Regions from separate parts of the Homo sapiens genome. Here all the other regions are linked to region 2. The links come from fine-mapping of genetic effects on gene expression. A gene starts in region 2. Each other region holds a variant in brackets. All regions are shown on one strand. Distances are from middle to middle.

Region 1 (8,044 bases), 61 kb after region 2:
GATGGAACAGCTAAGGCTCAGTCTTGCTGAAGAGCTCTCTACTTATAAGTCAGTTTCTGCTGCTATACAAATCTCATCTAATACTGGCTGAGGGGATGGTGGGAGGGCTTAGGGAAAATTTTACCTTAGAATCAAAAACAAAAAGAGGATTTGGGAAATGATTTTCAAATTGTGCTTATCCAAAAACACATGGAAAATGGCTCTCTCTTTTTAAAGGGCTATGCTACTACCCAAGAGCCTGGAACAGGCTGATGCTCCCACTTCTCAGGCAGGTGGAATGGAGACACAGTCTCAAGGTGATCTTTGTGAAGAGAAGAGTGGTGTTTGCATTGTTACTGCTTTCCTAACAATACTAATTAATGCCTTAAAAACAGGCCGGACGGGGTGGCTCACGCCTGTAATCCTAGCACTTTGGGAGGCTGAGGAGGGTGGATCACCTGGAGTCAGGAGTTCAAGACCAGCCTGGCCAACATGGCAAAACTCCATCTCCACTAAAAATACAAAAATTAGCCGGGCATAGTGGCAGGCACTTATAATCCCAGCTACTCAGGAGGCCAAGGCAGGAGAATCGCTTGAACCAGGAGGCAGAGGTTGCAGTGAGTCAAGATCACAATACAGCACTCCAGCTTGTACAACAGAGTGAGACTGCCTCAAAACAAAACAAAAACCCAAAAAACAAAAACAACAAAAAACCCTTGTGTGCCTAATGACAAGGGGATAACCCAAACCTCCAAAACGCCTGAGTCAGGCATTCAGAGTTCATTTGGAATGTTTGTTTCTAGTAGGACTCAAAATATGCCCTGATTATCACCATGAATTCTGTGGCATCTAGGCTTTGGGCATCTTGTTTCCTCATCCTACCCTACCCACCTGCTATTCTCAGTTTTCCTTATAATAGCAGAGAAAGCAGTTGTGCTATCAAAAATAATAAACATATCTATCCATTAAGTTCCTTATATAATATTCAAAGGCTGTGGTTTTGGGTGGAAGCAGAGATGTTCATGTTACACAGACTTACTCTTTTTTTTTTTTTTTTTTTTTGAGACGGAGTCTTGCTCTGTTGCCAGGCTGGAGTGCAGTGGCGTGACCTCTGCCTCCCGGGTTCAAGCGATTCCCCTGCCTCAGCCTCCCAAGTAGCTGGGATTATAGGCACGCACCACCACGCCTGGCTAATTTTTTTGTATTTTAGTAGAGACGGGGTTTCACCATGTTGGCTAAGATGGTCTCATCTCCTGACCTTGTGATCCACTTGCCTCGGCCTCCCAGAGTGCTGGGATTTCAGGTGTGAGCCACCATGCTTGGCCTAAACAGACTTAACTTTTAGACACTGACAAAACTGAAGGCATCTTTCTGACCAATCACCTACTCAGGATCCCTCCCCCAATGTTTTACCAGTATATTCTGATAAAAGTTCTAGAGTCCGTGAAAGAAACTAAGGATAAAAGAAAGTCCGTGTCAAGTTGTACATTATACAGATGCCTATAAATTTTATTCATTTCCTAAGCTTACATCAAATTCACAACTTTCTTTTTTTTTTGAGACAGTCTCGCTCTGCCACCCAGGCTGGAGTGCAGTGGCACGGTCTCAGTTCACTGCAACCTCCACCTCCTGGGTTCAAGTGATTTTCCTGCCTCAGCCTCCTGAGTAGCTGGGACTACAGGAGCATGCCACCACGGCCAGCTAGTTTTTGTATTTTTAGTAGAAACGGGGTTTCACCATCTTGGCCAGGCTGGTCTTGAACTCCTGACCTTGTGATCCACGTGCCTCAGCCTCTCAAAGTGCTGGGATTACAGGCGTGAACCACCGCGCCTGGCCCACAAGTAACTATTGTTGCTTTTTCTAATTTTCTAGGATTTTATTTTTTTAAATTTCTTTTTAGTAGAGATGGGGGGTCGGGTCTTGCTATTTTGCCCAGGCTGGAGTAGTGGCACGATCTTGGCTCACTGCAACTCTGCCTCCTGGGTTCAAACAATACTCCTGCCTCAGCCTGCTAAGTAGCTGGGATTACAGGCATAAGCCATCACACCCAGCCTTGAGGATTTTCTTATACTGTGTTTGAATCCACATGACTGATAATATGCTTAATGTTTGAGAAATTATAACCTTGCAATTGAGGTTAATGATCTACTAACTACCTTTGTGTTGATCAGATTGTGTACAATCTGGAAAAGACAACGACTAATCCAAAGAAATGAAACTACAGAATTTCAGGCATTGTAATTATACCTGTAAGAAGTTAACCTAGCAGAGAAAACGTTTAACTATCCCTCCCATCACCATCACCATTCATTCTATTTGACAAACAGGAGGCATCCAAATATTTGCTAGGGGAAAGTCATCCCTGATCATCCATAAATCACACTGTAACAATCTCTTCTCAACAAAGCCTGCAGTAACTAAACCTCAGAAGTTCACTGTTATAAACTTTTTCTTTCAACTTTACAGGGGCTGTTTAGAAATATATGGCCAAATCTGTAACCCGGAAACAGCAAAAAACTTCTTAGCAAAGGATCACTAAGTACCCTTTGGATGTACTCTTCCAACCAGACAAGAGTGCCAGAAACTTGGCAAGCAATTCATCCTGTGGAAGTTGCAAATACTGGCTGACCTGCTTAAAAAGATTCTAGAGTTGGCCGGAGGCAGAACATGTCAACTCTTTGCTGGATTCTATTTCATCTGCTGTTGATACTGATCTCAATGCACCAAGGAAAGGAAAGATGAGCCTCCTGTCTTCCAGCAACAACCCTCACATATGCACTGAGTGAAGGATGAATGTATGGACACATCTGGGAGTATTTTAAAGAATGTATCTTGCCTTGTGTTGACCCAAACCAAAAACATTTTTGAGGGGCACATGTGGGGTCAAAAAGATAGCCAATTTCCATTACATGGGTTTACAATTTCCATTCTTTTGTGCCACGAGTGTTAGAATTTAAATGAATACTTTTACAAAGTCTACTTTTTGTTCAAGGATATGCTGACCCATATAGTTTACTCTTAAAATTGTGTCAAGGTATTTCTCACTATACTCTAAAACAACTAGACTTGAAAAGAAACCATTTGAGATTTGAATCTAATGGTTAACGCTATTCAGATTTTCCCAAAGATCTTACCTCATGAAAGTAGTTCTGGGTCAGAATGATCTACTCAGTTAAAAAACAACAACAACAAAAAACTAAGCGATTGGGAAAAAACAGGAATTTTATCTGGTTATTGCATCTGGTGATAGAGGCCTTCAAAGCCTATTATTTCTAACCTAAGTAAAGGCCCCAGTGAAAAACATACTGGGGAAATAAAACCTCTGAGAAAAGGTTCAAGCACCTTTTCCAAATTTAAATCTTGCCTTAAATTCTCTCTACCACACTGCCTTTGACACTCTTGGAAGTCCATGTAGTTCTCTACAGATAGACTTCAAAGAAACGTTACCTTATCAAAGACTAATCTGTGCCACCTCTGATTCAGTGTTTTATGTCTTTCACTTTCCCTGGGAAGGAGTAAAGTTCTTTTCTACAG[C/T]TCTGGGACTATTACATTTAATTCTGCTCTTGATAGTCAAAGACCATGGACAACAACTGTCATCTGAAGGACTCTTCTAGAAGCCAGAGACTGGTGTTTGATGGATGTTTTATACTAAATAAAACCCATCAGCATGGGGTTATGTAGAAAAGCAATTTATTCCATTTTAAGCACTTACACAGTTAGTCATGGAGAGTAACAGGCCTGCTGGTGAAACAGGTCACCCAAAATGGAGATGGCATCAAACTAGTGGTCAAGGACTAACTCCTAAAAAAAAAAAGCAACTCTTATCAAGGATTAATTTAATTTTTAAAACAAATACAAGTTATTGATTCACTCTTCTCAACTTGACAGTCTACCTGTGGTATAACTGTCAGGTAAAAACATACATCTTTACAACTTGGTGGTCCCAAGTTAAAAAAAAAAAAAAAAAAACCAACAACAAAAAAAAAAACACCATTTCACAGACAGGAAATAAACAACATGAAAACAGCTCAAGAAATACACTAACGAGCAAAAATATATGAATATATGGGGAAAGAGGAACGTGTTGTTTTGACTTAACTGAAGAAACCAAGAGGAAACTGGTCTACGTATGAAAATGTGCATCCTGGAAAGTCAGGTGTCAAGATTTTCGAGTAGGAATCTATATGACTTGAATCTCCCCCTATTTCCTGAATAAAAGTGACATCTTTCAGTATTTATACTTCATGGCTCAGACACCTACCTCATTTGGCTCTATTCCTTACTCACTCTAGCCTTTACTTAAATGAGTCTGAAAAACTTGGGGATATAGCATAAGAAGAAAAATAATCACACATAATATTCCCCTTTCTGTAGCTACTTTAGACCTGGGTTACTAGAAAATTCCTGAAGAAAATTTCAACGTTAAGTCTGTGGCTTTGTTGAATCAAGCCCCCCTATTAATATTTAGAAAACACCCACGGTTTGGGCTAATAGCATTATCGGTGGTACCTATTATATAGAGGGATAGCTGAATAAAGTCTGTCTCAAAACCAGTGTTAAATCACTCTCAGGGTTGAGAAGAAAAAAGGGGAGTCTAAAATCACAACAAGTAAAGACATATCTAGGACCCTTGTCCTTCTGGATCCACGCTTCCTTCAGGGTCTTCATCATTATAAATGTTCTCTGCCTGCCCAAAAACAAGAAAAAGAATTTAAACATGAAGACTTCTTCTAAAACTCAAGGTTTCAACAACAGATTAGGCCAGGAAGCCAGAGAGTAAATACTTTATAGCTTTTGGGCCACACAATCTGTGTTACAACTATTCAACTCTTGGATGAAAGTATCCGGAGACAACCTATAATGGGTAATGAAATATTAATTAGCATGATCATGTTCCAATAAAAATAAGCAGCTGATCCCCAGACGCCTGATTAGGACATTCCCACAAAACTGCAGTGTGGATACTATTTGTCTTGATAGCCAACATTCTTGAGTTCTTTAACCAGGCATTATTATTTTTCTTTCCTTTTGAGATGGAGCCTTGCTCTGTCTCCCAGGCTGGAGTGCAGTGGCACCATCTCGGCTCACTGCAACCTATGCCTCCCAGGTTCAAGCAATTCTCCTGCCTCAGCCTCCAGAGTAGCTAGGATTACAGGCACATGCCACTACGCCTGGCTAATTTTTGTATTTTTAATAGAGATGGGGTTTCACCATGTTGGCCAGGCTGGTCTCGAACTCCTGATCTCAGGTGATCTGCCCACCTCGGCCTCTCAAAGTGCTAGGATTATAGGAGTAAGCCATTGTGCCCAGCCTAACCAGACATTATTAATAATAGCCAAAAAGTAAAAACAACCCAAATATCCATCAACTACTAAAATGGATACACGGTATATCCAATCCATATGATGGAATATTATTTGGCATAAAAAAGCCAGTCAGGCCAGGTGTGGTGGCTCATACCTGTAATCCCAGCACTTGGGAGGCTGAGGCAGACAGATCACTTGAGGTCATGAGTTTGAGACTAGCCTGACCAACAAGGCGAAACTGCATCTCTACTACAAATACAAAAATCAGCCATGTGTGGGGGTGCACCCCTGTGGTCCCAGCTACTTGGGAGGCTGAGGCATAAGAATTGATTGAACCTGGGAGGTGGTGGTTGTAGTGAGCCAAGATTGCACCACTGCACTCCAGCCTGGGTGGCAAAGCAAGACTGTGTGCCAAAAAAAAAAAAAAAAAAAAAAAAAAAAAAAAAAAAAAAAGCTGTCACATACTTTAGGATTTTATTTATATAAGGTGTCCAGGCCAGGTGTGGTGGCACACGCCTGTAATCCCAGCATTTTGGGAGGCCAAGGCAGGCGTATCACCTGAGGTCAGGAGTTCGAGACCAGCCTGGCCAACATGGTGAAACGCTGTCTCTACTAAAAATATAAAAATTAGCCAGGCGTGGTGACAGGCGCCTGTAATCCCAGCTATTTGGGAGGCTAAGGCAGGAGAATCGCTTGAACCCAGGAGGCGGAGGTTGCAGTGAGCCAAGATCACACCACTGCACTCCAGCCTGGGGGGCAAGACTTCGTCTAAAAAAAACAGGGGTCCAAAACAGGCAAATCCATAGCTTGGTGGCTGCCTAGGGCTGGGGGACTATGAGAAAAATAGGAAATGATGGCTAATGGGTACAGGGTTTCTTTTTCAGATGATGAAAATGTTCTCAAATTGACTGTGGTTGATGGTTGCACAACTGTAAATACACTGAAGACTGCTGAACTGCACACTTAAAACTTCCAAAACAATATGTTCCGAATCTCTATATATTGAAGAGAAAAACTGTTCTTGTATAGAATAAACTCTACTTCTACTGCTTGACAGAATACCTGTATCCAACGGCATAATCTTAAAATACAGGAACCACTTTCACAGGAGCAAAATTTACTGCTCTTAGCACCTACCATGCACATATCACTATGATAGGTACTGCAGAGGACAGGATAGTCTTACCTTCAAAGAGCTTGTGATCTGACCCCAGAGAAAAGAATACATACAATTGTGTGATGCTTTCTGACGTTACTTCTAACACCAAATGTGGGGTACCCTTTCTTAGGACACCAACTGGGTGTACAACTCAATCCTATTCTGACACTATCTGAAGTTAGCTTTGGAGAAGACTGTCCTTACTTCAGAAGCCAGTTGCAATTCCCTGGTCCCAGGCTACCTGCACACTTCTATCCCACTTGACTACAAATTTCAGGGTTCCCACTACTGCCTCCTCAGGTCTGATAATTTGATGGAATGACTCACAGAACCCAAGAAAGCTTTTTACTATTACTGTTTTTTGTTTGTTTTTTGTTTTGTTTTTTTTTTTAAATAAAGGATACAACTGAGGAACCACATGGAAGAGATGCATACGGCAAGGTGGGGAGGGGCTGCAGAGTTTCCATCAAGTCTCTGGGCATGCTACCCACCCAGTATGTCGAGTTGTTCACCAATCCAGAAGCACATCAAATTAGGAGTTTTTATAGAGTTCAATCTCTGGCCCTGCAACCCCAAGGTTGGCAAGTGGGCCGACAAGTTTTAACCCTCAAATCAAGTGATTGGCCTTTCTGACTAAACCAACTATGAGGCTATCTAGGGGCCCCACCAAAATCACCTCACAGTAGAACAAACTCAGGTGTGGTCCAAAGTGGATCACTAGGAACGACAAAGACACTCCTAGCACTCTGCAAACTCCGAGTGTTTTTGGAGAGCTCTGTGCCAAGAACTGGGACAAAGACCAAATATTTACTTACTCTATTACAATGCTAAAAACACCAAATAAAGTAACAACTTGGAATGGAGGTGATGGCCTTGCAGGGATCTAGTTTAACCTTGAATTCTTCAGTATTTTTTTTTTGAGACAGGGTCTCGCTCTGTCACCCAGGCTGGAGTGCAGTGGCGCCATCTTAGCTCACTGCAACCTCTGCCTCCTGGGATCACGCTAGCCTCCCACTTCAGCCTCCCAAGGAACTGGGACTACAGGTACGTGCCATCACGCCCAGCTATTAAGTTTCTGTATTAATATTGAAGGGATTTATTACAAAGAGAGTGAGGTGAATTTTCTGTTTTCAAGTTACACATCTTTTTTGTAAAAAAATTATAATACAGAAAGGTCTAAAGAAACCAAGAACTAGGTACCAAGCACATTTTAGCAAACAGCTTTTCTTTTTCTTTTTTTTTTTTTTTTGAGATGGAGTTTTGCTCTTGTTGCCCATGTTCGAGTGCAATGGTGCGATCTTGGCTCACCGCAACTCCTCCGCCTCCTGGGTTCAAACAAGTCTCCTGCCTCAGCCTCCCAAGTAGCTGGGATTACAGGCGCCCGTCACCATGCCTGGCTAATTTTTGTATTTATTTTTTAGTAGAGATGGGGTTTCACTATGTTGACCAGGCTGGTCTCAAACTACTGACCTCAGGTGATCTGCCCACCTCGGCCTCCCAAAGTGTTGGAATTACAGGCGTGAGCCACCACACCTGGCCAGTAATCAGCTTTCTAAATATAGACTAGATACACAAAATTTTAATATGAGGAATACCATTA
Region 2 (8,044 bases):
GCAGAGTTGTCCATTTTTTTTTTTTTTTTTTTTTGAGACCTAGTCTCGCTCTGTCGCCCAGGCTGGAGTACAGTGGTGCAATCTCGCCTCACTGCAACCTCCACCTCCCGGGTTCAAGCGATTCTCCTGCCTCAGCCTCCTGAGTAGCTGGGATTACAGGCACGCGCCACCACGCCCAGCTAATTTTTGTATTTTTAGTAGAGACAGGGTTTCACCATGTTGGTCAGGCTGGTCTTAAACTCGCGACCTCATGACCCACCCACCTCAAACTCCCAAAGTGCTGGGATTACAGGTGTGAGCCACCACGCCCAGTCAAGCAAAGTTGTTCTTAGGCCCAGAGCCCATTCCTTCCAGACTGGGTCGTTAGAGCTCAGGTGACTAAACTTATAAACACAGGCATAGCAACCCCTTGCATTTCTATGGTTACTTCTCTTTAATATAATTTTCTTTTTTTTTTCTTTTTTTTTTTTCTGAGTCTCGCTCTGTTGCCCAGGCTGGAGTGCAGCGGTGCAATCTTGGCTAACTGCAACCTCCGCCTCCCGAGTTCAAGCAATTCTCTTGCCTCAGCCTTCCGGGTAGCTGGGACTACAGGTGCACGCCACCTTGTCTGGCAAATTTTTTGTATTTTAGTAGAGACGGGGTTTCACCGTGTTGCCCAGGCTGGTCTCGAACTCCTGAGCTCAGGCAATCTGCCCGCCTCGGTCTCCCAAAATACTAGGATTACAGGCATGAGCCACCACGCCCAGCCTTTAATATAATTTTCATATGCTCTCTTGTGAGAATCTTGGTGAGACAGAAAGGTCACAGCCCATCAAGGCAATGTCCAGCCAGAGGATTCCCCCTTTCTTCCCCACAAGACAGTGGTGGAATCAGGGAGCCCACTGAGAAGTTGCTCATCCTACATCATGGGGCTTGCTAGTAGCTGGGCCAGGATTTAAACTCTCATTGGCCTGATTCTGATACTCTCCCCACTCTATCAAGTTCCCTCACTTCTCTCTCTGGGCCATTTCCCATCTGTAAAGTGAGTTGAACAAGAAGATCTTCAAGCCTTACCTGCTGCTCTATGTCCTTGGGAGAGTCATGAAAACAGTCCCGATTTTTGAGGCAGGTGATTTGAGTTTAAATCCGTTTGGTCAAATCAGTCACTCACTGTCCCTGAGCCTCAATTTTTTCATCTGCAAGTAAGATCTTGACATATTCAGACTAATCAATAAATGTCAGACTTCCTCTCTTCTTCTAAGTTTGTGCAGGGTAGTGAGGTCAGCAAGGGAATCATGGAAGACTGGTGCTCAAAACTCCATGACAAGCTCAGTTTTTCCATCTTAAAGTAGGAGAGTCAGATTAGAGGAATCAAGACCTGCCTCTCATAGGTCTTTGAGCCAGAGATTGGAATGGAGGAGATAATGACTTCCCCAGCAAAGATCCCTGACCTCCCAGGAATCTCCTGTGTATCCCTCCTCCCCACCTCTCCCAATCTCCATTCTGAACATTCTCCCTGAAAGAGTTAAGCCTTCTGCAGGCTTCCCGTTCCTGGCCAGCGTTGCCAGTGGAGATTAGTGGGATCAGATTTATTTCTCTTAATAAACAGAAAAGAAGTTGGGCCAGGCAGGTGACAAGGAAACAGTTGCAATAATAGGAGGCTGGAGTAAAAGGGAACAGGACTTCCTCCAGTCATACCCAGGGCCACCTCCAGACCTGGAGAAACAACAGCCAGGGGCAAGGAGGTGTTACCCATGCACGTGGGCTCAAATCAGGCCGACATGCTGCCCAGAAAGCCCAGAGCCACCTGATACCAAACACAAGGCAAGAGGGAGGCCTGGCCACTGACCCAATGAACCCAAACCCAGGCTGTTGGAGCAGTGACCTACAGGCTCAGCTTTTCCAGCCCCCTGCCTTCCAGGCTGGTCTCCCAGAGGAAAAAGGTCCATTGCCCTGGAGTATACACTGCTAGTCCACTAGCCTTCTGCCTGCCAATCCTGACAGTCTGACCACAATACATCCTGCTGCAATGCCCTCTTGAATGAGACGGGGATGACTTCAGACTGAATCCCAGTGGGGCAGCCCTGGGACAGACTCCATGTCCTGTTAGGACTGCAGAGGCTTTGGAAACACCCCTCACCCAAATCCAGTCCTCCCTCAGGGTTTGGCCCAGTCACCCCAGCCCCAGCACCCTCACTTCTATGTGTGGCTGTGCCGCAGGGAAGCAGGGCCCTTATCCAAAAGGAAGATCAAGCCGGATACAATCACACATGAGGCTTTCCACCCTCTTCCTGACCCCTAAAGTGTTCCTTCTAACTCTCCCAGAAGAGGTGGTTAAAGGACACTGGGAGGGTAAACACAGGCAGAATGGGATGGGCCCGCACACCCAGCCATTTCCTCACCTCCAGCACTGCAGCAGCAGTCTAGGAAAGGTGGACTTCCCAGGACAGCAAGCCCCAAGGGAGCTCCACCCTCTTGCAAAGACTCAAGCCCTCCCCATCAAAAGGAAGACAGAAACTGGAAAATGAGGGAAGGCCCAAGAAAGGAACTGAAAATGACCCCAGCAGGGATGGGCCAGGTCGGCTTCCCCGCCTTTCAGGCTGCCCGTCCAGGCCAGAGGAGGAGCCCAGGGACTCAAATTCAGAAAGACTGAGAATTAGCTGTTGAATTTTAAGTACCCACCCCAGCCCAGGTACAGCCTCTCCACTGAGCTTGGGCCTCAGTTTCCCCCATCTGTAAGCACACTTCCGACACTGGCATGTTTCTCCAGGGCTGGAAGAAGGAGTGATAGGGAGGGGCGGGTTGGTTCACCTTGGTGAGCTCACTACCCCAGGAGGTGATGTTTGTGGCCTGGCCCAGGTGAGCGTTGAGGGAGGCCAGGTGGGAAAAGCCAGCACTGTTAAGAAGCTAAGGCAGGGCACACTGTGCTCCATGTGAGGTCCTTTGTGGGGCTGGAAATCCAGATCCAGCTGGAGCTGAAACTCTTTGTGAGTGCGGTTGACCTTCCAGACCCAGAGGGTCCCCACCAGAGACCCAAGGCCACCTGTCTCTCCCATTGGCCACAGGCCAGCGTTAAGTCTCTGACCCCCTGACTCAGCAGAGGGCAGAACCTCGGTGAGCCTGGGGGAGGGGGAATCGCCTCACCGCCCTGGAGTCGGGCTACCAGCACTTCCTGCTCTGCCAGGGGATCCCTGCCCCAGCCGGGGGTCCCCTCCCCTCACAGCGGGGCAGGACTGGGTCTGGAAACTGCGGAAGGCAGCGCAGGGTGGAAGTGTTCGGACTCAGCCCTGGCCTCTTCGCTTTCCAGCACCAGCTCCTGGGGGTCACCCCCCTCCAACACGCCGCGCGCGGACCCCCGGCAGAGCCCCCTCGGCCGCACCCTCGACGCCCCCCCGCGCTCAGCCCAGGTGCCGACCGCCTTACCTCGGCCTTTGCCCTTGGCCCTCTTGGCCTTGTCCTCCGCCTTCTTGGCCCGGGGGGCGGCCGGTTCGGCGCCCTCGGCCCCCGCCGCCTTCTTCTTGCGCCGCTTGCCCCGCAGCCAGCTGAAGGCGCGGCGGAGGCCGGACGCGCCGGAGCGGGACTTCTTCCTGCGCGGGGGGCCGCCCGGGTTCCCCGGCTCCTCGGCCGCAGGTGCGGCGGGGGGCGCGCGGGCCGCCATGGCAGGCGGGGGCGGAGCGGGCGGCGGGTCAGGCCCCCTGCGGCGCGGTGCCCATGCCGGGGGCGGCCGCCGGGGACGCGCGCCCGGAGAAAAGTTTGGGCGGCGGAGGCCGAGCGGGCGCGGAGAGCGGACGGCGGGAGCGGCGCGGGAGGGGCCGGCCGAGCGGCGGGCGGGGCGCAGGCCGGCGGGGAGGGAAGGAGCGGGGCGGGAGCGGCCGCAGGGCGGGAGCGCCGCTGCCTGCGGCCCCTCCCCGCCTCCCCCGGTCCCGGCGGAGGGCGAGGTCCAGTCCCGAGAGGAGGGGGTCCCGGGAGCCCGGGGTCGTGCCCCCCGCTGGGGCCCGAGAGGGCGGGTCGTGGGGCCGCCCGGGAGGGGGCGGCACTGAGGTTCCGTCCCGCAGGGGGCACCGCGGGAGATCTGTTCGGAAGAGGGTGGTATGGGGTGGGGACGGAAAGGGGAAGGGCGCAGGAAAGGAGGAGCGAGAGGCTGGGGTTGGACCCCAGGAGACTTGGTATCCCAAGTTTGGGCTGGGAATAGACAGGGGATTCTGGAATATTTTTTCCTGGAATAAGGGAATTTGGAGAATTCCTTCCAAGCCCCGACAGTGTTGGGGCGCTTGCGCCAGGAATAGAGGCTTCAGACACGTCCAAGACCTGTGACCCGCAGTGGGCATTTCCCTCCCATCTGCTGACTGGGGTCGCCTCCTCGCTCTTTACCACACCTTCCAGGCTCCAACCATCTTCGGTGTGCAGCGGGGGCCCAGGTCCACTGTGTTCCTGCCTCACCCTTTGGTGGCAAGATGAGGATAGCCCTTCCTCCGTTTACCCTTGGACTAGGATTTGAGGCCCCAGGGCACTCCTGCCTGGACCAGGAGTTCCCACTGAGATGCTCAACACTAATTAGGGTTGAACTCTGGGCAGGTGAGAGGTGTGACTGGGAGGCTGGTAGGAAAGGAAACATTAAGAATCCTGAAATTGCTGTACTCATTGCCTACAGGCCTCTGGGTCTATTACAGCTGACCAAGCCCTTTTATATCATCTGATCCCACGACAACGGAAATGGAGGCCAGAAGGGGACAGAGGTGGTCAGCGGGAGAGGAGCCAAGATGGTCATCTGGGTTTTGTCTCAGGCTGGTCCAAGGCTTCAAACCCTAAGGACTAGAAATTGCGCTGGGGACCAGCTGTGGGTTCAGCACCCTTGAACCTCCTCCGTCAGTCCCCAGAAGGGCCTTGTGATGTCCATACCAGTGGGGTGGCCAGAATCACCCAATCTGACTCTGGTCACACGGCTTTCTCTTGGTCCTGGTCTCCACGAGGGCAGGGGCCCATTTGTCTGGGCCACCCAGCCCAGTCAGCCCCGGCGCACTGTAGATAGCACTCACCATAACATTGCAGGATTACTAGAGTGCAGTGGGATCTCCCTAACCTGCCTTAGCCCCCTGCATGTCCCCAGGGGCTCAGCTGTGGTGAACCTGGGACATCATTGACACTCTCCCACCTGGGGGCCCTGGGGCAGACCACCCAGTGTCCATGCTGGGCCTCAGTTTCTTGTCTAACCACCATTCATTCAGATCCAGCCCACAATCCCAGAGCACCCATTCTGGATCAGGAACCAGCCCTGTACTCTGGGTGCTCTTGGCCCAGCCTAGCACTCCTAAGAACCCAGCCTCTTCCTCTGTTAGTTGGTGAGGAAAGGGAATGTAGAGAATGCAGTTTTCAAGAGAAAAGTGTTACAGGTGCCAGGCATGGTGGCTCAGGCCTGTATTCCCAGCACTTTGGGAGGCCCAGGCAAATGGATCACCTGAGGTCAGGAGTTTAAGACCAGCCAGACCAACATGGTGAAACCCGGTCTCTACTAAATACAAAAACTTAGCTGGGTGTGGTGGTGCATGCCTGTAGTCCCAGCTACTTGGGAGACTAAGGCAGGCGAATTGCTTGAACCCGGTAGGCGGAGGTTGCAGTGAGCCAAAATTGCACCATTGCACTCCAGCCTGGGTGACAGAGCGAGACTCTGTCTCAAAAAAAAAAAAAAAAAAAAAAAAAAAAAACTTATTAAGAATTTCAAGGCCTGCCACAGTGGCTCATGTCTGTAATCCCAACACTTTGGAAGGCCAAGGTGGGAGGATTGCTTGAGCCTAGGAGTTCGAGACCAGCCTTGGGCAACATGGTAAGAGCTCATCTCTCCAAAAAAAAAATTGTTTTTCATTAGCCAGGTGTGGTGACAAGTGCCTGTGGTCCTAGCTACTCACTCGGGAGGCTGAGGTGGGAGGATCCCTTGAGCCCAGGAGGTCAAGGCTATAGTGAGCCATGTTCGCGCCACTGAACTGCAGCCTGCGAAACAGAGTGAAATCTTGTCTTTTTGTTGTTGTTGTTGTTTGTTTGTTTGTTTGTTTGAGACTGAGTCTTGCTCTGTCGCCCAGGCTGGAGTGCAGTGGCACAATCTCGGTTCACTGTAACCTCCACCTCCCGGGTTCAAGCGATTCTCCTGCCTCAGCCTCCTGAGTAGCTGGGACTACAGGCGCCCGCCACCACGCCTGGCTAATTTTTGTATTTTTAGTAGAGACGGGGTTTCGCCATATTGGTCAGGCTGGTCTCGAACTCCTGACCTCAGGTGACCCACGCGCCTCGGCCTCCCAAAGTGCTGGGATTACAGGCGTGAGCCACTGTGCCTGGCCTGACTTTGTCTTTTAAAAAAAGAATTTCAAGAGGCAATAGCAGGCCGGGCAAGGTGACTCACGCCTGTAGTCCTGGCACTTTGGGAAGCCGAGGCAGGTGGATCACAAGGTCAGGAGTTTGAGACCAGCCTGGCCAACATAGTGAAACCCCGTCTCTACTAAAAATACAAAAATTAGCCAGGCAAGGTGGCAAGCGCCTGTAATCCCAGATACTCGAGAGGCTGAGGCAGGAGAATCACTTGAACCCAGGAGGCGGAGTTTGCAGTGAGCCAAGATCACGCCATTGCACTCCAGCCCCGGTGACAGTGTGAGACTCCATCTCAAAAAAAAAAAAAAAAAAAATTAGCCAGGCTTGCTGGCAGGCGCCTATAATCCCAGCTACTCAGGAAGCTGCGGCAGGAGAATCACTTGAACCCGGGAGGTGGAGGTTGCAGTGAGCCGAGATCATGCCATTGCACTCCAGCCTGGGCGACGAGTAAAACTCCGTCTCAATAAAATAAATAAAAATACAAAAAAACTAGCAAGGCATGGTGGTGCTTGTCTGTGGTCCCAGCTGCTCGGGAGGCTGAGGCAGGAGAAACGCTTGAACCCAGAAGGCAGAGGTTATAGTGAGCCGAGATGGTGCCACTGCACTCCAGGCTGGAAAATAAGAACAAAACTCCGTCTCAAAAATAAAAATGCCGGGCACGGTGGCTCACGTCTGTAATTCCAGTACTTTGGGAGGCCAAAGAGGGCGGATCATGAGGTCAGGAGATCGAGACCACCCTGGCCAACATGGTAAAACCCCGTCTCAACTAAAAATACAAAAATTAGGCCAGGTGCAGTGGCTCACACCTGTAATCCCCGCACTTTGGGAGGCTGAGGCAGGCGGATCACCTGAGGTCGGGAGCTCGAGACCAGCCTGACCAACATGGAGAAACCCTGTCTCTACTAAAAATACAAAAATTAGCCAGACATAGTGGCGCATGCCTGTAGTCCCAGCTACTCTGGAGGCTGAGCAGGAGAATCGCTTGAACCTGGGAGGTAGAGGTTGCAGTGAGCCTAGATCGTGCCATTGCCCTCCAGCCTGGGCAACAAGAGCGAAACTCCATCCCAAAAAAAAAAAAAAATACAAAAATTAGCCGGGCATAGTGGCGGGTGCCTGTAATCCCATCTACCTGGGAGGCTGAGGCAGAGAATTGCTTGAACCCGGGAGGTGGAGGTTGCAGTGAGCCGAGACTGTGCCACTGCACTCCAGCCTGGGCGACAGAGCAAGATTCTGTCTCAAAAAAAAAGAGGCAACAGCAAAACATTCAACCAAGCACAGAGCCTTTCTGAGCATGGGCTATGCATAACTACACAGTTTGCATGCCTCTGAAGATAGCCCTGCCAGTGTCTCATATAATTCCTCAGGGAAATTCCCCTCAAACTAGAATTTCCAGGAATCAACCCACAGATTGGATCCTCTGATTTGCAGGTAGGGAGAGGAAGAAGGGAAATGAGGAGAGTTCAGGGTTATATTCCCTTCACTGCTCCTGACTCCAGCACCCAGAGACTCTCACTTCTCATCCCCAGCCCGGACCACCTTCAGACCAGCAGGCCCAGCTCTCCCTCTTGCCCCCTGGCCTAAAGGACAGACATGCTTCTGAGCCACCCAGGGAGGGCTAGCCTAGGAAGAGCTAGCCTGTGTCTCAGCTGTAGCTGGATCCGGCTCCCTGGAATAATGATTGCTCAGCTCAGCTACATGTCTTTGCTGG
Region 3 (8,044 bases), 100 kb before region 2:
GAAGGCTGCCTGGTACCAGCAGGTCATTAAGTAAACCAATCAGATACTCTTCTTTGAAATGTCAATGTGAGCTTTAGTAATGAGAACAAGAGAGAACAGTACACATGCAGGGCTCTAGGAAAAACAGTTACTTGAGATAGCTAAATAGCAGCAAAAGTACTGGTCACAGAAGCAGATTAGATTAGGGAAAATCCCAATAGGGAACAGAGGCACTCATTTCTTTTTTCTTTATTTTTTTTTGAGACGGAGTTTCGCTCTTTTGCCCAGGCTGGAGTGCAGTGACTCGATATTGGCTCACTGCAAACTCTGCCTTCCGGTTTCAAGCAATTCTCCTGCCTCAGCCTCCCGAGTAGCTGGGATTACAGGTGCCCGCCACCATACTCGGCTAATTTTTGTATTTTTAGTAGAGATGGGGTTTCACCATCTTGGCGAGGCTGGTCTCGAACTCCTGACTTCATGATCCACCCACCTTGGCCTCCCAAAGTGCTGGGATTACAGGTGTGAGCTGCAGCACCTAGTTAGAGGCACACATTTCTGACGGAGCGTGTAGTTCGGCTCTACGGTTAATTCTTTTCACTACGAGACCTGGTGAAAAGTCTCATCTAATCATCTTTTCCTGTAAATCCTTAAACTCAGTTACTTAAAGGCTATCATAATATCTCTATTCCATGCAATGTAAAGTACTTAATACCAGGGAGGGAATGAAGAGAGAAGGAAAGAAAAAATGTGCTACAGGGGACATGGGCTACTGCTTTTATAAATAGATTAATAAAATATAAATGAAAAGAAAAAATAAGTAGAAGGCAAGAATGCAAATGTGTCACCTCTAGGTCAACAAAACTGCGATGATCTAGTAGAAATCTTGACTGATTTTCCTTGCAGGCAAGGGAAAAAGTAGAAGAAACAGGAGTTATTATGTAATTCACTTATGAAGTGATACAGGGGATACTGAATGATATATGAATGTCCTCAACAGTACTGGGAAATTCAGAATCAGAATTTATATAACCATTGCTGTTTATGATCTTCAATAAAAATCAAAGCAGATATTTCCACTTGTAGCTAAGATGAATGGGGGACTTAACCTCTCACTGTAAGCTACTAGAAACTAGGCAAAATTATGAAACAAGTGCTTTCAGACTACTGAAAATTGTGATCCCCGAGGAAAGAGAAACAACTGAGGTGAGTCTTGAAACTTCTTATAAGTCTATAATTTTTCAAAATAAAAAGTTTTTTAAATGAAGGCAAAATAAACAGGTTCTAAATAAAAGCAGAGAGACTTCATCAGTAGATGTGCACTACAACAAACATTACAAGTTGTTCATTAGGAAAAAGGAAAATAATATCACATCGAAACTTGGATCTATACAAAATAATCAAAAGCACTGGAAATGTAAGTATGTGAGTGCATATAAAAGGCTATTTTTCCTATTTAGATGATGTCTTTAAAAGATAATTTACTGTTACGGCCAGGCACGGTGGCTCATGCCTGTAATCCCAGCACTTTGGGAGGCCAAGGTGGGCGGATCACCTGAGGTTGGGAGTTCGAGACCAGCCTGACCAACATGGAGAAACCCCGTCTCTACTAAAAATACAAAATTAGCCAGGTGTGGTAGCACATGCCTGTAATCCTAGCTACTAGGGAGGCTGAGGCAGGAGAATCGCTTGAACCTGGAGGCGGAGGTTGCGGTGAGCTGAGATCGCACCACTGCACTACAGCCTGGGCGACAAGAGTGAAACTCCGTCTCAAAAAAAAAAAAAAGAAAGATAATTTACTGTTTAAAGTAAAAATAACATGCCTGTAATCCCAACACTTTGAAGGATGAGGTGGGAGGCTTGCTTGAGGCCAGGAGGTCAAGACTACAGTGAGCTATAATCATGTTACTGCACTCTAGCCTAGGCAACAGAGTGAGATCCCATCTCCATAATAATAATAATAAATTTAATAAGATAATAAAAATACAACAAAGAGGTATAGGCAGTAAGTATGGAGATAAAATGGAATACTAAAAAATACTACAAAAATTAAATGAGTCAGGGAAAGATGGAAGTGGAAACAAAAAACAAATAGAAAACAAGTAACACGATGGCAGATTTAAATCCAGCCATATGGGATTGTACATTAAATGTAAATGGATTAATGCTCCAATTAAAGACTGAGATTGTGAGACTGGAAAAAAAAAAAAAAAGCAAGACCCAGCTACCAATTATATGCTCTCTATAAGACATTTACTTTAAACATAAAAGTAAATTAAGGAGGGCAGGCGTGGTGGCTCATGCCTGTAATCCCAGCACTTTGGGAGGCCGAGGCAGGCAGATCATGAGGTCAGGAGTTCAAGACCAGCCTGGCCAACACAGTGAAACCCCATCTCTACTAAAAAACTACAAAATAAGCCGGGTGTAGTGGCATGCACCTGTAGTCCCAGCTACTCAGGAGGCTGAGGCAGGAGAATTGCTTGAACCCAGGAGGTGGGGGTTGCAGTAAGCCAAGACCACACTATTGCACTCCAGCCTGGGTGATAGAGTGAGACTCCATCTCAAAAAAAAATAAAAAAATAAATTAATTAAGGCAAGGCCCAGTGGCTCACACCTGTAATCCTAGCACTTTGGGAGGCCGAGGTGGATAGATCACTTGAGCCCAGGAGTTTGAGACCAGCGTGGGCAACATGGCAAAACCCCATCTCTACAAAAAATACAAAAAATTAGCCAGGCTTGGCGGCACACACCTGTAGTCCCAGCTACTTGGGAGGCTGAGGTAGGAAGATCACGAGCCCGGGAGGTTGATGCTACAGTGAACCATGATTGTACCACTGCACTCAGGCTGGGTGACAGAGCAAGGCTTTATCTTAAAAAAAAAAAAAAAGAAAATGAAAACATATCAAAATGTGTGGGATGCAGCTAGCAGTGCCTAAAGGGGAGCCTATGGCTTAAAATGCTTAGAGAAAATAGAAAGTTCTCAAGATCAATGATCTGATCTTCCACATTAAAAAGCTAGAAAACAAGGCCAGGCATGGTGACTCATGCCTGTAATTGTGGCACTTTGGGAGGCCAAGAGTTCGAGACTAGCCTGGGTAACAGTGAGATACCATCTCTATTTAACTTTTTTTTTTTGAGACAGGGTCTCACTCCGTCACCTAGGCTGGAGTGCCGTGACACGACATTGGTTCACTCAGCCTCCTGGGTTCAAGGGTTCCTCCCACCTCAGCCTCCCAAGTAGCTGGGACTACAAGTATGTGCCACCACAACACTCGGCTACTGTCTCTATTTTTTAAAAAAGAAAGGCCAGGAGATCGAGACCATCCTGGCTAACACAGCTAACGTGGTGAAACCCCGTCTCTACTAAAAATACAAAAAATTAGCCGGGTGAGGTGGCGGGCGCCTGTAGTCCCAGCTACTCAGGAGGCTGACGCAGGAGAATGGCGTGAACCTGGGGAGCGGAGCCTGCAGTGAGCCAAGATCGCGCCACTGCACTCCAGCCTGGGCAACAGCGAGACTCCACCTCAAAAATAAATTAAATAAATAAATAAATAAATAATAAAAATACAAAAAAATTAGCCGGGCATGGTGGGGGGTGCCTGTAGTCCCAGCTACTCGGGAGGCTGAGGCAGGAGAATGGCGTGAACCCGGGAGGCACAGCTTGCAGTGAGCCGAGATCACGCCACTGCACTCCAGCCTGGGCAACAGAGCGAGAGTCCATCTCAAAAAAAGATATATATATATAGATATATAGAGATATATATCTCTCTATAGATCTATACAGAGATATATATCTCTATCTATAGATATCTATATATATCTCTATCTCGGAATAGAAATCAGAAAACAGGAAGGGCATGGTGGCTCATGCTCATAATCCCATTACTTTGGGAGGCCAAAGCTGGAGACCATCTCTACAAAAAAATTTAAAAATTAGCTAGGCATAGTGGCACGTGCCTGTAGCTACTCTGGAGGCCGAGGTAAGAGTATTACTTGAGCTAAGGAGGTAGAGGCTGCAGTAAGCTGTGATGGCCCCACTGCACTCTAGCCTGGGGGACAGAACCAGACCCCATCTCATAAAAATTAGTAACAAAACAGGGTTTGCTCTGTAACCTAGGCTAGGCACAAGTGATCCTCCCACATTGGCCTCCCAAAGCACTGGGATTACAGGCATGAGCCACCGTGCCCAGTTCCAAATGTTTTTCTAAAATCAGTAACAGGTTCGGGCACAATGGCTCACACCTGTAACCCCAACACTTTGGGAGGCAGAGGCAGGCAGATACTTGAGGCCAGAAATTCGAGACCAGCCTGGCCAATATAGCAAAACCCCACCTCTGCTAAAAATACAAAAAATTGGCTGGGCACAGTGGCTCACACCTGTAATCCCAGCAATTGCGGAGGCCGAAGTGGGCGGATCACCTAAGGTCAGGAGTTCAAGACCAGCCTGGCCAACATGGTGAAACCCTGTCTCTACTAAAAATACAAAAAAATTAGCCAGGCATGGTGGCAGGCGCCTGTAGTCCCAGCTACTCGGGAGGCTGAGGCAGGAGAATCACTTGAACCTGGAAGGCGGAGACTGCAGTGAGCTGAGATCGAGCCACTGCACTCCAGTTTGGGTGACACAGCGAGACTCCAT[C/T]TCAAAAAAAGAAAAAAAAAGTCAACAAGGGGATGGGAAAAGATCTCAGCCGGGCATGGTGGCTCACGCCTGTAATCCCACCACTTTGGGAGGCCAAGACGGGCAGATCATGAGGTCAGGAGATCGAGACCATCCTGGCTAACATGGTGAAACCCCGTCTTTACTAAAAATACAAAAAATTAGGCCATGTGCGGTGGCTCACACCTGTAATCCCAGCACTTTGAGAGGCCAAGGTGGTCGGATCACTTGAGGTCGGGAGTTCGAGACCAGCCTGACCAATATGGAGAAACCCTGTCTCTACTAAAAGTACAAAATTAGCCAGATACAGTGGCACATGCCTGTAATCCCAGCTATTCAGGAGGCTGAAGGAGAATCGCTTGAACATGGAAGGCGGAGGTTTTCGTGAGCCGAGATTGTGCCATCGCACTCCAGCCTGGCAAGAAGAGTGAAACTTCATCTCAAAAAAAAAAAAATTAGCCGGGTGTGGTGGCTCATGCCTGTAGTCCCAGCTACTCAGGAGGCTGAGGTTGCAGTGAGCTGAGATCACGCCACTGCACTCCAGTCTGGGCAACAGAGCGAGATTCTTGTCTCAACAACAACAACAACAACAACAACAAACAAAAAGAAAAGATCTCATTTGTACTTAACTGGAGGTTCTAGGCAGCACCAGAAAAGAAAATAAAAGGCATCCAAGTCAGAAAGAAACAAGTAAAAATTTCTTTATTTGCTGACAATAAGATAACCTACAGGGAAAACCTGATGAAATCTATTAAAAAGTTACTAAAACTAATAAAAGAATTTAGGAAGGTTATAGAATGTAAGACCAAGACACAAAAATCAATTACATTTCTATATAATAGCAATGAACAGATACTGAAATTTTAAAAACTAAATCATTTTACAAAAGCATCACAATATGAAACACTCCGGGATAAATTGGATAAAAGATGTGCAAGACTGTACAAAAGCTACAAAACATTTATGAAGGAAATTAGAGAAGACTTTAATCAAAACACTCAATATTAAAATGTTAATTCTCAGTCAGGCGCGGGGGCTCACACCCGTAATCTCAGCACTTTGGGAGGCTGAGGAGGGCTGATCACTTGAAGTCAAGAGCTCGAGAACAGCCTGGCCAACTTGGTGAAACCCTGTCTGTATTAAAAATAAAAAAATTAAGCTGAGTGTAGTGGCAGGCATTTGTAATCCCAGCTACTTGGGAGACTGAGGCAGGAGAATTGCTTGAATCTCGGAGGCAGAGGTTGCAGTGAGCTGAGATCGCACCACCGCACGACAGCCTAGGCAACAGAGTGAGACTCCATCTCAAAAAAATAAAATAAAATGTTAATTCTCTCTCAGTTTTATTTATTTATATAGACTCAATACAATCCCAATGGAAATCCCACCAAGCCTTAAGAAATTGATACGCTAATTCTAAAATTTATATGGAAATGCAAAGAATCTACAAAAGCCAACACAACTGAAAAATAAGAACACTAGTGGAACACATTAGTCTTTTTTTTCCTGGAAACCTGATTTTTCTAGAGACAAATGATTTTTGACAAAGGTACAAAGGCAATTCAATGCAGAATGGACAGTCTTTTCAATAAATGGTAAAGAAGCAATTGAATATCCATGTGCCAAGAAAATAAGCCTTACATTCCCACGTGTGTGTGTGTGTGTGTGTGTGTGTGTGTGTGTATATATATATATATACATATATATATATATATGTTTTTTTTTTTTTTTTTTTTTTTGAGACAGTCTTACACTCTGTCACCCAGGCTGGAGTGCAGTGGTGCATCAATGCAACCTCCCTCTTCTGGGCTTAAGCAATCCTCCTGCCTTAGCCTTCTGAGTAGCAAGGACTACAGGTGTATGTCACCATGCCCGGCTAACCTTTTAATTTTTTTTTGGTAGAGGCAAGGTTTCACCACATTGCCCAGGCTGGTCTCAAACTCTTGGGCTCAAGCAATCTTCCCACCTGAGCCTCCCAAAGTGCTGGGATTACAGGCTTTAATCCATATCTTGCACTACATACAGAATAAATTTTAAAAGGATCATAGATCTAAATGTAATCCCTAAAGCTATAAAACCTCTAGAAAAAAACATAGGAGAAAATTTTTGTGGCCTTTTCTTTTAAGCAAAGATTTCTTAGATACCACATGAAAGCATAATCCGTAATTTTTTTTTTTTTTTTTTTTTTTTGAGACAGAGTTTTGCTCTTGTTGCCCAGGCTGGAGTGCAATGGTGCTATCTCGGCCCACAGCAATCTTTACTTTCCGGGTTCAAGCAATTCTCCTGCCTCAGCCTCCCGAGTAGCTAGGATTACAGGCATGCGCCACTACGCCCAGCTAATTTTGTATTTTTAGTAGAGATGGGCTTTCTCCATGTTGGTCAGGCTGGTCTCAAACTCCCGACCTCAGGTGATCTGCCTGCCTTGGCCTCCCAAAGTGCCGGGATTACAGGTGTGAGCCACTGCTTCCCACCCATAAAATTTTTAAAAACCTGATTAAACTTACTTCATCTACTATAACCAGTGACTACCAAGAAAAATAAATAAATAAATAAAAATAAACAAACTTACTTCATCAAAACTAAGAATTATGTTCTTTAGAAGACACTTATGGGAATGAAAAGACAAGGCATATACTGGGAGAAAATATTTCCAAATTACTTATCTGGCAAAGAAACTTGCATTTGGAACATGTATTTAAAGAACTCTCGAAACTCAGTAATAAGAAAATAATCCAATTTTTTTTATTTTTTTTTTTTTTGAGATGGAATCTTGCTCTGTCGCCCAGGCTGAAGTGCAGTGGCACAATCTCGGTTCACTGCAAGCTCCGTCTCCCGGGTTCACGCCATTCTCCTGCCTCAGCCTCCTGAGTAGCTGGGACTACAGGCACCCGCCACCATGCCCAGCTACTTTTTTTGTATTTTTAGTAGAGACGGGGTTTCACCGTGTTAGCCAGGACGGCCTCAATCTCCTGATCTCGTGATCCGCCCACCTCGGCCTCCCAAAGTGCTGGGATTACAGGCTTGAGCCACCGCGCCTGGCCGAAAATAATCCAATTTTTTAAATGAGCAAAAAATACTTCACCAAAGAAGATATACAGGTGGCAAATAAGCACATGAAAAGATGCTCAACATTATTACTCATTAGGAAAATGCAAATGAAAACTACAATGAGATATCACTACACATATATTAGAAAGTCTAAAATTATAAAAACTGACCACTTTACACCCATTAGGATGACTCCCATTGAAAAATAGAAAATAGGTCGGGCGTGGTGGCTCACACCTGTAATCCCAGCACTTTGGGAGGCCGAGGCAGGCGGATCACCTGAGGTCAGGAGTTCGAAACCAGCCTGGCCAACATGGCAAAACCCTGTCTCTACTAAAAATACAAAAATTAGCCAGGCGTGGTGGCGGG
Region 4 (8,044 bases), 33 kb after region 2:
ATCGAGACCATCCTGGCTAACACAGTGAAACCCCGTCTCTACTAAAAACATATAAAAAAATTAGCCAGGCGTGGTGGCGGGCGCCTGTAGTCCCAGCTACTCGGGAGGCTGAGGCAGGAGAATGGCGTGAACCTGGAAGGCGGAACTTGCAGTGACCGGAGATCGCGCCACTGCACTCCAGCCTGGGCGACACAGCCAGACTCCGTCGTCTCAAAAAAAAAAAAAAAAAAAAAAAAAAAAAAAAGGAAGCAGAAGCTCAGAGAAGCCTAAGGGTACAGAGCGGGGAAACGTGAGAGACTGCTCTGCTCTGGATTCGAACCCAGCTCAGAGTCTAAGGCCTGGCACCTTCCCTGAGTCCCACAGCCTCCCAGCAAGCGCATGCGCCCTTTAAACTCCAGCAGCTCGCTATGGGTGGATCTGCGGCTATTATTGTTGTGTGTTCATTATCACTGCGGTGCTAAAGGACGTCCTTGATTCAGCTGGGACGCCGACCTCCCCACTGTCGGCGCGCCATCGGTCCTGAAAACTCAGGGCCCGGGCGGCCCCGCGCGGCTGCGGCGGAAAAGACAACCCCCGGGGCGCGGGGTCGGCGTGGCGGCGCCCCCTGGAGGCAGTGCTCGGCATTGCCCGACCTGGGGAGGAACGACCCTGAACGCAGCTTCCTCTGAAGCGGTGGCTGGTGGTCAGCACCGGGTAGGCCCCAATGGCTCCCAGACAGCGGTCCCAGAGGGCAGGGAGAAAGAAGGAAATAAAGAGAAGAACACTTATCAAGTGTCTCTTGTATACTGGGCAAAAGGCTGGGCATTTCCTGCACATTTTCTCATTTAACGCCCACCCAATCTCATTTCCTAGAAGCAGAATCAGGGGGCCAGGCGCGGCGGCTCACGCCTGTAATCCCAGCACTTTGGAAGGCCGAGGCGGGTGGATCACCTGAGGTCAGGAGTTTGAGACTAGCCCGGCCAACATAGTGGAACTCCGTCTCTACTAAAAATACAAAAATTAGCCTGGCGTGGTGGCAAGTGCCTGTAATCCTAGCTACTCAGGAGGCTAAGGCAGGAGAATTGCTTGAACTCGGGAGGCGGAGGTTGCAGTGAGCTGAGATCCAGCCACTGCACTCCAGCCTGGGTGACAGAGTGAGACTTTGTTTCAAAAAAAGAAAAAAAGAAGTGGCCGGGCGCTGTGGCTCACGTCTGTAATCCCAGCACTTTGGGGGGCCAAGGTGGGCAGATCACGAGGTGAGGAGATCGAGACCATCCTGGCTAACATGGTGAAACCCCATCTCTACTAAAAATACAAAAAATTAGCTGGGCGTGGTGGTGGGCGCCTGTAGTCCCAGCTACTCGAGAGTCTGAGGCAGGAGAATGGCATGAACCTGAGAGGCGGAGCTTGCAGTGAGCTGAGATGGCACCACTGCACTCCAGCCTGGGTGACAGAGCAAGACTTGGTCTCAAAAAAAAAAAAAAAAAAAAAAAAGGAAGCAGAACCAGAGAGGTTAAGTAATTTGCCCGGAGACACAAAACAAGTCTGTGGCCATGCCTGGGCCCCTTGGGGCTAAGTCTGAGGATGGAAAGGCTGCCAGATTCCCACTAGACTATAAGTCTCTGAAAGTCAAGGTTAATGACAATGATGTGGATAACACATCATTTATTCGTGGAGGCAGTGTATTGAATCTTGGGTGCCACCATTTCCTCTCTGTGTGACTTTGGTCAACTAAGTTGCATAACCTCTCCAAGCCTCAGTTTTCTCATCAGTAAATGGGCTTTATTACAGGCCCCATGTTATAGGGCTGTTCTGAAGATTTATTGCATTAAAGCAGATAAAATGCCTTCTAGCCCAGGTGCAGTGGCTCCGGCCTGTAATCCCAGCACTTTGGGAGGCCCAAGCAGGCAGATCACCTGAGGTCAGGAGTCTGAGACCAGCCTGGCCAACACGGCGAAATCTCCTCTCTACTAAAAATACAAAAATTAGCCAGGCATGGTGGTGGGTGCCTGTAATCCCAGCTAATCAGGAGGCTGAGGCAGGAGAATTGCTTGAATCCGGGAGGTGGAGGTTGCAGAGAGCCAAAATTGCGCCACTGCACTCCAGCCTGGGTGACAGAGCGAGACTCTGTCTCAAAAAAAAAAAAAAAAGACTAGTTTAGCATCTGGCTTGCAGTAGGGGCTCAAGAATATAGCTAACATCATTTACTAATTTGGCCACTATTTGTTTTTTCTTTTCATTCTTTATTCTCTTCTATTTGTCTTATTCATTACTATACTCTTCATGAACACATCATTTGGCCACTATTTGTTGAAAACCTAGGGACAAGGGACACAGCCATGAAGTCATACAGATATAGGTCTTGCTTTAATGACTTACTGTCTTTGTGTTCTTAGGGTTTAACACATTGTCTGGCCTAACAAATGGTGAAGTGAATGAATGAGCGAGTGAAAACACATGCTGTAGTCAGCCAGCCCCTGGTTGCAGCTTCAGAGAGAGGAAGCAGGAGAAAGGGGAGTTTCAAAAATAATAGTTAATTATTTCTTGTTTTTGTTTTGTTTTGAGACAGAATTTTGCTCTTGTTTCCCAGGCTGGAGTGCAATGGCACGATCTCGGCTCACTGCAACCTCCGCCTCCTGGGTTCAAGCGATTCTCCTGCCTCAGCCTCCCGAGTAGGTGGGATTACAGGCATGCACCACCATGCCCAGCTAATTTTGTATTTTTAGTAGAGACGGGGTTTCTCCATGTTGGTCAGGCTGGTCTTGAACTCCCGACCTCAGGTGATCCACCCACCTCGGCCTCCCAAAGTGCTGGGATTACAGGAGTGAGCCACCGCGCCTGGCTGTGTTATCTAATTTTACAGAGAAGAAAACAATTTCCATGAAGTGGAGTGACTTTCCTAAGGTCACACAGCAAGTAAGCGCTCCAAAGCTTGGATTCATACCCTGGCTCTCTAGAAGCAGTAGGTCAAGGCTGGGTGCGGTGGCTCATGCCTGTAATCCCAGCACTTTGGAAGGTCAAGGCTGGAGGATCGTTTGAGTTCAAGAGTTCAAGACCAGCCTGGGCAACATGGTGAGATACCCCTCTATCTGGCTGTGATCTGTACAAAAAATAAAATATTTAGCCGGGTGGGGTGGCACACACCTGTGGTCCCACTGATCATACCACTGCACTCCAGCCTGGGCAAGAGCAAGACTCTGTCTGAAAACAAAAAACAGAAGTGGTGGGTCTGAGGGCCCTGCCAGGGCATCTCTGTACCACCCTCCTCCCACCTCTAGACGGGTTGCTGGAGCTCTTGGCACAAAGAAAGTGAGCAGAGGCCAGGCGTGGTGGCTCATGCCTGTAATCCCAGCACTTTGGGAGACCCAGGAGGGCGGATTGAAGGTCAAGAGTTCACGACCAGCCTGGCCAATATGGAGAAACCCCTTCTCTACTAAAAATACAAAAATTAGCCAGGTGTGGAGGCAGGTGGCTCAGGAGGCTGAGGCAGGAGAACCCAGGAGGCAGAGATTGCAGTGAGCCAAGATCATGCCATTGCACTCCAGCCTGGGGGACAAGAGCAAGAACGCCGTCTCAAAAAAAAAAAAAAAGTGAGCAGAATGGCCTCCACCTGCATCAGTAGTAATGGGGAATGTGCTACTCTCAGCTTGGAGAGCAGCTCCACTTCCAGTGGCTCATGTGTTGAGCCTCACATTTGATTGCATTTCACAACAACCCTGTGAAGAGGGTGTTAATTGCCCATTTTGCTGAGAGGGAGCTGAGGTTCAGGGAGGTTGGTTTCCCAGGGTCCTATAGGATCTGCTCTGGGGTCTGGTAGAGACAGCTGCCAAGGCCATGCCTCCCCTGCTGCCCTCTGGTGCCTCTCCACTTCCCAGCTCATCCATCCATTCCTCCCACACGCATGTCCACTCACTCACAGTCCCCTGCCTGCCCCATTCTACCAGCCACAGAAACTACAGTCCTAAGACAGAGGGACCCCTTGGGTGGGGACCCTGCCTGGAGTGGCACCCAGAAGTCTTCACTCGAGATGAAATTTGTTCACAACTTTTCTGATTCTGGTTTTTGGTGCGTTTTTTTTTTTTTTTTTTTTTTTTTTGAGACAGAGTTTTGCTCTTGTTGCCCAGGCTGGAGCACAGTGGCACAATCTTGGCTCACTGTAACCTCCACCTCCCAGGTTCGAGCAGTTCTCCTGCCTTAGCCTCCCAAGTAGCTGGGATTACTGGCATGAGCCACTACACCCAGCCAATTTTTGTATTTTTAGTAGAGACAGGGTTTCACCAGGTTGGCCATGCTGGTCTCGAACTCCTGGCCTCAGGTGATCCACCTGCCTCAGCCTTCCAAAGTGCTGGGATTACAGGCGTGAGCCACCACGCGTGGCTCTAGTTTTTGTATTTTTATTTTATTTATTTATTTATTTGTTTATTTATTTATTTTTTTTTTGAGACAGAGTCTCGCTCTGCTGCCCAGGCTGGAGTGCAGTGG[C/T]GCAATCTCAGCTCACTGCAAGCTCCGCCTCCCGGGTTCAGGCCATTCTCCTACCTCAGCCTCCCATGTAGCTGGGACTACAGGTGCCCGCCACCATGCCCAGCTAATTTTTGTATTTTTAGTGGAGACGGGGTTTCACCGTGTTAGCCAGGATGGTATTGATCTCCTGACCTCGTGATCTGCCCGCCTCGGCCTCCCAAAGTGCTGGGATTACAGGTGTGAGCCACCACGCCCGGCCTAGTTTTTGTATTTTTAGTAGAAACCGGGTTTCACCATGATGGCCAGGCTGGTCTTGAACTCCTGACCTCAGGTGATCCACCTGCCTTGGCCTCCCAAAGTGCTGGGATTACAGGCGTGAGCCACGGAGCCCAGCCGGTGGGGATTTATTTATGTATGTTTTTGGAGACAGGGTCTCACTTTGTTGCCCAGGCAGTAGGGCATCATGCAGTAGTGTGATCATTGCTTACCGTAGCCTTGAACTCCTGGACCCAAGCAATATTCCTGCCTCAGCCTCCCTCACACCTGGAATTAGAGGTGTGAGCCACCACACCCAGCTGTGGGGGGTATTTAGAAAGAAAGTCTCCCTAAGTTATCTGTCCAGGGCCCAGCTTTCTAAGGTTCAGTTTTTATCTTAGGGATCTCAGCAGGAAACAGCGGCACACTCAAACACTCAGTGTTTGCCAGAAGAGGATTTAATGAAGAGACCATTCACAGAGGTGTGGGCAGGAATGGCGGAGCACCTGGGACTCGCAATGGTGGAATGGAATCATTACCCCTGGGCCTGAAGGAGCAGGGGAGGGAGCCTTGTTAAGGAACCTGGCCAGAGCTGTACCCATGGGTACAAACCACCCAACAGGAGCCATGGCTTTTGGGGGAGGAATATAGTTAATGCCAAAGTCACAGGCAGGGAGGGGGCATAATAAATATCTTTATCTAGGCTGGGTGTGATGGCTCACACCTATAATCCCAGCACTTTGAGAGGCTGAAGCGGGTGGATCACCTGAGGTCAGGAGTTTGAGACCAGCCTGGCCAACATGGCAAAATCCTGTCTCTTTGTATTTTGTAAAAATACAAAAATTAGCTGGGTGTGGTAGCACATGCTTGTAGTCCCAGCTACTTGGGAGGCTGAGGCACGAGAATCACTTGAACCCAGGAGGTGGAGGTTGCAGTGAGCTGAGATCATGGCACTGCACTCCAGCCTGGGTGACAAAGCGAGACTCTGTCCCCCCAAAAATAAAAAATAAAATAAAAATAAATATCTTGATCTCACTCTCCTCCCTCTCTGATCTCCTGCCAGGGTCCCCAGTTTGGCCAAACCCCACCTGAAACCAGAAGGCAAGGGGGCCCAGGAGACGCTGGCCGCAGGAGTCAGCTCCTGGACACAAAGCTCTGAGAAGGAAGGTTAGGCTAAGAGTAGCCAGCCCAGGGGCCTCTCTCCTCCTCCTGGGTTTGGCTTTGTGGAGGGGCTGAGAGTTAAGAGTGGCTGCGCTTGTCCTTCAAAGCAGAGTCTGTGCCTGATTCCTGATTCCAGAACAGCTTTTCTCATCCTTCCAGGCCCAGGTACTTTGTTCACGAGGCCATCCCCAGTCCCGGAGTTAATTTCTCCCATCCATCCCTGGCTTCCCTGGTTCTCAATGTCTATCACATCACTCAGCCCAGTGATTTGGCATTATTTTCTGCATAGGTTTTTCTCCCCAGGAGACGGTTCTAGCTTCCTCTACACTGAAAGCTTCTTGCAGGCTTGGGCCAAATAAGGCTGTTTGCTCTGACACAGGGCCCAGCACAGCCCAAGTGCCAATGTTTGCCAAGTGAGCTGAATCTTATGGGCTCAAATACCTCACACTGCCTTGCTGTATGCAATCTGGGCACATGTGTGTCTGTCTCCCTGAGTAGACTGGGGCTCCTGAGAGGTGAGTGGCCCAGGCCTAGCACACAGCAGGCATCAAATATTGCCTAAATTAGCCTAAGTAAAACCATCCTCCTTCCCTTCATTCATTCAACAATTTTTTTGGAGCTTCCAGATAGCTGAACATATGGAGGTTCCTGGAGGATGGTGTGCCCAGGGAGGGGATGGAAGCTTCATGCCCCTTCCTCCATAACTCTGCCCTATTCATCTCTTCATCTGTATCCTTTTCAATATCCTTTATAATAAGCCACTAAAGCTAAATATGGCCATGTGACTGAGCTCTGGCAATAGGACACAATCAGAAGTGGTGTGAGGTGAGCGACCCCTCCTTTTTACTTTCATTGGATAGAATGAGGCATTAGAAGGGAGCTTGGACTGGTCTTGGATGGGTGTGGATTAGGGCCACAGTCTGGAGATGGTGGAAGACCAAGCTGTGATTCTGCATCTTTGGCAGATTGTATTTTCCCAAGACAGAGGCAATACTATATCCCATTCCATAAGCTCTTCTTATACTGTGACTTTGACACACCCTTCCCATTAAAAGGTGGCATCTATGTCCCCTCCCCATGAGCTGGAGGCCCGGGTTTTTGTGACTGCCTTTAGCAACAGAATAGGTCAGCAGTGACAGTGTGTAGCTTCCAAGGCTAGCTCAAAAAAAATGCCTTTCACTTCTGCCTTGTTCTTTTGGGACGTTTACTGTTGGGACTTAGCCACCATGCCATGAGGAAGCACAAGCAACCCGTGGAAAAGCCCATGTGGAGGAGAACCAAGACCCCCAGCCAAATACCCTGCTGAGCTCCCAGCTGACAGACCGCATCAACTTGCCAGCCACATGAGTGAGCTGTCCTGGACGCGAGTTCTGCAACCTCTGGGCAAGCCACCTCAGCTGATGCCACGTGAAGCAGAAATGAGCTGCCTCCACCAAGCCGTGCCCAAATCACAGATCTGTGGGTAAAATAAATGATTGTTATTATTATAAAAAACAAAAACAAACAATTTTTTTAAGGTCCTACTATGTGGTAGTCCCTGTGCTGGGCTCTGGAGACACAGCAGTAAACAAGACACATAAAGTCTCTGCCCTCATGGGGCTTCCATTCTAGTGGGGAAGCAGAGAAGAAAATAATTGAAAATGAATAGTATTGGCCGGGAGCGGTGGCTCATGCCTGCAATCCCAGCACTTTGGGAGGCCGAGATGGGCGAATCACGAGGTCAGGAAATCGAGACCATCCTGGCTAACACGGTGAAACCCCGTCTCTACTAAAAATACAAAAAAATTAGCTGGGCATGATTGCAGGCACCTGTAGTCCCAGCTACTCCGGAGGCTGAGGCAGGAGAATGGCCTGAACCCAGGAGGCGGAGCTTGCAGTGAGCTGAGATTGCACCACTGCACTCCAGCTTGGGCAACAGAGTGAGACTCCGTCTCAAAAAAAAAAGAAAGAAAATGAATAGTATTGTTGCAGATTGATAAGTGCTGCACAGAAAATAAACAGGGTGACAGGGATAAACAGTAAATGGGGTGAGGCATGGTGGCTCCTGCTTGTAATCCCAGCACTTTGGGAGGCTGAGTCTGGAGGATCCCTTGAGGCCAGGAGTTTGAGATCAGCCTTAACAACATAGTGAGACCCCATCTCTATTAAATAAAATTTTACAAAACCCAACAAAACAAAAAAGCCCATA

Direction of the effects. Positions count from the first base shown, and alleles are read on the strand shown. Sizes are in standard deviations (SD) of each study's normalised expression. Not every link is listed here.
For the expression in fibroblasts of the gene that starts at base 3,762 in region 2, T is the high allele of the variant in region 3 and C is the other (moderate effect, 0.53 SD a copy in GTEx).

The links.
Region 1: its variant is fine-mapped to the expression of NHSL3 in whole blood (TOPMed, PIP above 0.99).
Region 3: its variant is fine-mapped to the expression of NHSL3 in fibroblasts (GTEx, PIP 0.90).
Region 4: its variant is fine-mapped to the expression of NHSL3 in whole blood (TOPMed, PIP above 0.99).

The regions. Positions count from the first base shown.
Region 1 is chr1:32,676,262-32,684,305 of GRCh38, reverse strand. RBBP4 (RB binding protein 4, chromatin remodeling factor) reads right to left here. Exons shown (of 12, transcript NM_005610.3): 12 at 1-4,666. The coding sequence ends at 4,601. SYNC (syncoilin, intermediate filament protein) reads left to right here. Exons shown (of 5, transcript NM_030786.3): 3 at 1-48; 4 at 217-296; 5 at 2,446-4,400. The coding sequence ends at 2,456. Among named protein-coding and RNA genes, the nearest start is that of SYNC, 22 kb to the left of the region's middle. The variant C/T (reference allele first, on the strand shown) is at 3,514.
Region 2 is chr1:32,737,548-32,745,591 of GRCh38, reverse strand. NHSL3 (NHS like 3) reads right to left here and starts at 3,762. Exons shown (of 7, transcript NM_020888.3): 1 at 3,403-3,762. The coding sequence starts at 3,637.
Region 3 is chr1:32,840,503-32,848,546 of GRCh38, reverse strand. The region is part of intron 5 of S100PBP (S100P binding protein); the gene reads right to left. Among named protein-coding and RNA genes, the nearest start is that of FNDC5, 26 kb to the left of the region's middle. The variant C/T (reference allele first, on the strand shown) is at 4,613.
Region 4 is chr1:32,704,899-32,712,942 of GRCh38, reverse strand. No RefSeq gene overlaps it. Among named protein-coding and RNA genes, the nearest start is that of SYNC, 6.2 kb to the right of the region's middle. RefSeq lists a silencer at 486-725. The variant C/T (reference allele first, on the strand shown) is at 4,462.